Regions from separate parts of the Homo sapiens genome. Here region 1 is linked to region 2. Evidence: fine-mapped expression QTL. Tissue or cell type: gastroesophageal junction. Region 2 holds a variant in brackets; the other region holds the start of a gene. All regions are shown on one strand. Distances are from middle to middle.

Region 1 (2,685 bases), 930 kb after region 2:
TTTATTTTGCCAAGTAAAGCATTATGATACAATCACTACCCACTATCATTACTATCTCATAAAAGAAAGAACATTTTAAACATTTTCCATTCAAATATTTATTGAGCACCTACATTTTGCTAATACTGTCCTAGGCACTGGAGATACAGCTGAGAAAAAGAGAAATTATATCTGTCCTCAAAAAGCTTGATACAAGAGCACACTTGATAAAAATAAAAGGAAAAAAATAATCTCCAAAGAAAGAACAGTTCTCTAAATTAAGCTTACATTAAGACAGAAAAATGTGAAGTTCGTTTTTTTTTTTAACAATTTCTCCGTAGACTTCATTCAAGTTCATTTTTGGTCTGCTTTCAGGAATCTTTAGTTAACCAGCTATGTTTAATCTACATATTGCAGGGCCAATTGTACATTAAGGGGCGCTCAAGTAGTTTTGTACAGAAATATTACTCCACAACATTCCACCTCCAACCTCAAAGGAGATGTCTGCTGATGAGTTTAACTATAATTCTCTCAACTCTCCCCTCTTCGCAAGTATTCTCCGTGAATGCATCTCATTCCTAATGTGTGAAATCTCTCCGAGAGACAAGTATTAAAGTTTCAGGCCAAATCGGAGAGCACCGTAATCCTAAACCAAGTAAGTGTCACAACTGGGGAACATAATTCCCGACAGAAAAGAGGCCAAAGAGAAAGGATTTAGAAACATCGTGATTCGGAAACCACGAAGCCAACGTAAACTGCTCAGACTCCGGCACTACTGTCAAACACTACTGGCAAACCAAGACCCCTCCCAAACGCCATCTGAGGTAAACCTGAGAACCCTGATCCTTCTCAAGGCCCAAACCTGACAGGAAAAATAAAAAATAAAGCCATGCAAGCAGAAAAGCCAACTCGACCAAAGACACGGAGGGCCCAAGTTAAAGCAAGGAAATGAAGGGGCTGCTGCAGCCCTCCCTCAGACGCGATGCTCACACAGCTCGGGGGAGGGTGTCTGTGTGTAAGCGAGAAATTAAAGAAGCAATCTGCAGAAGGAAAAGTGGAGAACGCCTAACGGTTTTTTTGTAAAGATCCCAAGTCAAGAAGCAGCGTCAGAATCAAGTCGCCAAGCCTTACCTCAGCGCTCGGGTGTTTAAAAGTATCTAAAAATAACAGCTCCATCGCCGAGTCCACCGCCATGTTTGCCGCGGGCGGGGAACAGGGGGGAGGACTTCCGGGGCAGCGCTCCAGCCTCCGCGACAGCGACTCAGGAGAGGGAGAAACAGAGGGACTTCCGGTGACCAGAGCACTAGCGCCGCAAACCTCGGCCTATCCCAACGCATCTTGTTGCCCGGAGTTGCCGGCCCCGCCTTTTCCAGCGCGGCGGAGGGCGCCCCCTAGAACGCAGAGGGGGGGCAGAGGGAAGTGAGATGGGGACTACGGGGTCTCCAGTGGTTCAAACCCTGTCGTTCCTCCGCGTTACAGAGCTACAGCGGTCTCCGGGTGGCGAAGTGCGGAGACGGGGTTTTGGAGACGGTGGATGGAGGAGGGGGAGGGAAAGCTGCCAACTTTGGATACCAACCCCGTACACCCACCGAAGGGGATGTCCCACTTTTTCCAGCGCTGGGAGCAAAAAGATAACAGTGAGCGAGGTTGAAAAGTAAGACATTGATTTAAATAGAAGAAAAACTGTTGTTTCAACCAACGAAGAGATTCTTTGTTTTCTTATCTGTAAAATGTGAAAAATCGTACCTAACCTACAGGGTGATTGTGAGGAGTAATTGAAATAAAATTCGAGGAATTGTGTAACGTGAAGTACCATGAACAATAAAACAGGAGGCAGAATGAAAAGTAAGCCTCTCTGTCGGGTGTTGATGAGCTTTGGAGCAACGAGATAAACTCAGCGGGTTTGGTAGTCTAAATGGCACAAACCCTTAGCAGAGCAACTAGGAAATAGCTTGTAAAATTACACGTGCCTACCACTCTTCTAGGAAAATTCTCGCCCACGTATCTACAAATACAAGAATATTCATAGCAAACTTTATAAGTTGCAAAAGAGCAGGAAACATAAGTGCCATTGACAGAAGTAATAAGTAAATAGTGGCGTATTTATATAATAGTATATAGCAGGTACGAAGAATGAACCAGTGCTATGTTTACTAGCATGAAAAACCCAAAAAACAGGGTTGGTGGGCGCTTTGGCTCACGCCTGTAATCCAGCACTTAGGGAGGATGAAGCGGGAGGATCGCTTGAGCCCAGGAGTTGGAGAACTGCCTGGGCAATATAGCGAGACCCCGTTATTCACAAAAAGAAAAAAAAAAGACACAAACCAAAACAAAACAAGTTTAACTCCTCTCATCGCAAGCCGGGTGCGGTGGCGTGTTCCTGTGGTCCCAACTTCTCGGGAAGCTGAGACAGGAGAATCTCTTAAGCCCAGGAGTTGGAGGCCAGTGGGGACACCCATCTCTTAGAAAAGGAAATAAAAAATATATAGTGTAAAATAACATCTATATATTTAAAAACGTGCAAAAGAATATAAAATTTTAGGAGTGTACATATGTCATGAAATTATAAAGTCATGTATTGGAGTAACTAAAATTTCAAGATAGTGGTAAACTGGAAGGAGATGTAATGGAGAAGAACAGAAAGGCTTCACATGCCTTGGTAATGTTTTGTTATTTAGGTTAATGTTAATTTCACAAGCATGCCTT
Region 2 (2,685 bases):
CTGATGGGGCAGAAGAAGGCTCTTATCCATGCCGCCAGGAGAAAACTGCCTGGTTGTTATCATCCTTCCAGATACAAGGGAGAAAACTGAGCCCCATCCAGCAGGCTTTCACACTCAAGTGTAGCCTGATTCACACAGACATACTACTAGTTCAATGTTATTGAGTGCCCTCAGAACACAGAAAGGCTACCTACCCATGGTCACAAAGCTATGGGAAAATAAGCAGAATGGTTTAACAATTAAATCAGTGCTATGTCAATGTTAGTCTTCCTTGGGGAAAAATTATTTCTCAGACAATCAACATATAATTTTAGATGGCTGGGCTACCCGCCGACCGATAATAGAGATTTTCACAAAATTCAAGTCATAAAACTCCAGGAAATGAAATAAAAAGGCAAGGTAAATCACCATCAGTTTATTTATGTTATTCATACCATTCTAATTGTAAAACTCGATCTAAAGATGATAATACCAGCAGGGTTACAAAGGTTCCATCTCAGTGCTCCCCACTGTGTCCAAAGACACATGTGCTCATACACGCATTCCCTCCGCAAACAATGAGAAGCTCAGCTAGTCTCCCTAGAAGACAACAAACACAGAGTGTTTCTTCCCCTCCCCACCCTGGATTAATAACAGCCTAGACATTAGCCTCAGGATTTTACACAAGCCTAGGAGAGCATCGCCCAATTGCTCTCTCCCAGAAAATACAAACAAGACTCATAGAATGTAATTCTGGAAAAGACTCATTGGTTTCCAAATGCCAGTCCTAGGACCCATGACCATATAAAATAACTCTTTTTATTAGCCCAAGAAAAAGCAAGAAAAATAAGGACAATGTGATGAGTTTTCCAGAAGGTAAACTTTGAATTCAAAGGACTGTCTTTTTTCTGATAATATATGCTTCTCATATTTTATGTATTTGAATGTCATTTTATGTATAAAATGAAGGTAATACACTAAATTGTTTATGTCCTTACTAAATACAATTTGTCAATTCTCAAACATTGCTCTTGCGTGTGACTAGTTGGTGAGATTTAAAAGATTGGGAACCACTTGTTTTGTCCAGCTCTCTTTTTTTGTTTCTTCATTTTTTTAAAAATTTTGGGCCCAGCCAGGGCAACACAGTGAGACTCCACCTCTACAAATAAATAAATAAATAAATTAGCTGGCATGGTGGTGCACGTCTGCAGTGCTGAGGTGGAAGGATCACTTGAGCCCAGAAGGTCGAGGCTGCAGTGACCCATGATCACACCACTGCACTCCAGCCCAGGTCAAAGATGGAGACCCTTTCTCAAAAAAAGGGGGGGCGGGGCCTGAGTAAAGAGAGTTGAGCTAGTAACACTCCTGGGCCCACAGCACTCTGTTGTCATAAGTGAACACAGTGCTCCCTCTCCTATATTATATTTCCCCTTCATCTCTGATCCACACTCATAAGTAACCACTTCATAGTGATGAATGGAAAAGATATGCAACAGTCTATGTACATTGAAAGCATATTTACATGCAAAAAGCATAATGTATTTTTATGTATTCATACAAATCTAAGCACCTATGTCAGCATTCTCATTTTAAGAATGAAGCAACTGAGGATCAGGGAAGTCAACTGACTTGCCCATGGCCACAAGAAGGTCAGGTCAAAGCTGAGCT[A/G]AAACCTAAGCCATCTTGTACTCTCTCAATAAAATCTTTGGCTATTTCTCTAAATAAAAACACAAACATACACTCTTTTTAAAAAGATGGAAAAAAATGAAATTAATCACAAACATTCATGAAAATATCCGTAAAATCCCAAAGCAAAAACTATGAGTCTAGCTATTTCTAAAAGGTTCTGACAGTCACTTGAAAGGTCTTATGGACTTCATCAATCTAGGATATTGTGAGTTAGAAGACAATTTATTAGGCATATTTTTAAGAACCCTCCCCATGTTATTTACATAAATCCCTTATAGGTAGGTCTTTAGAGGTGTTTTTGAAAAAAAAATGTGAGGGGCATATTAATCACAACAATCTAGAAACTTGTCTAGGATGATGTTCTGAGCTCACCTTGGCACTTCCAAGCCTGGCATCTCCTTTCCAGATCCCAAAAAAAAGCAATTTTCTCAAGTCCCTGGTGGGGGGATCGGCATGCAAAATTGCCTCCTTCATTTACATCAGTGTCTGTCAGAATCTATTGAGACTCTGCCATGGGTATATCCTGCAGAAGCTATAGGCTGAGGCATTGAATAATCTTTTTGCACACTCATATTAGAATTAATGAAGTGACTGATTCTATTATATGCTCCTAAAACATTTTCTTTGTCACTTCCAAGTATACATTGTAGGGTAATTTTATTGAACTGTTCAAAAAATTACTATAAAATAGCATCCAGTTTCCACAAGCCCTTCATCCACAAGAAACAATGCATTCATTGATGGGCTCCCTGCCTCTGTAGGCTCTGGCAAAGGAAATCACTGGAGACTTATTTATTTTATAGTGAACAGTGAGGAGGGGACACCACTTTTAATTTGGAGATTCCAAATTTAAATGGAATGCCCTCCAAAAACTAGTAACCAATTCTATTACCTAACAGAGTCCCACAATATATCACCGTAAGTCTGTAAAGCCAACAGCATCCTTAAACAGCCACATTATCTCAAGAGCTTTAGTACTCTTTGGTTGAGAAGTGTCCCAAGAATTAGGTTCTCCAG

What was found. PIP is the estimated chance that this variant, and not a neighbour inherited with it, causes the effect.
Region 1: VIRMA starts here. The variant in region 2 is fine-mapped to the expression of VIRMA in gastroesophageal junction (GTEx, PIP 0.98).

Annotation. Positions count from the first base shown.
Region 1 is chr8:94,552,275-94,554,959 of GRCh38, forward strand. VIRMA (vir like m6A methyltransferase associated) reads right to left here and starts at 1,195. Exons shown (of 24, transcript NM_015496.5): 1 at 1,111-1,195. The coding sequence starts at 1,173. VIRMA-DT (VIRMA divergent transcript) reads left to right here and starts at 1,439. Exons shown (of 2, transcript NR_183271.1): 1 at 1,439-1,633. RefSeq lists an enhancer at 889-1,508.
Region 2 is chr8:93,619,520-93,622,204 of GRCh38, forward strand. The region is part of intron 5 of CIBAR1-DT (CIBAR1 divergent transcript); the gene reads right to left. Among named protein-coding and RNA genes, the nearest start is that of CIBAR1-DT, 80 kb to the right of the region's middle. The variant A/G (reference allele first, on the strand shown) is at 1,648.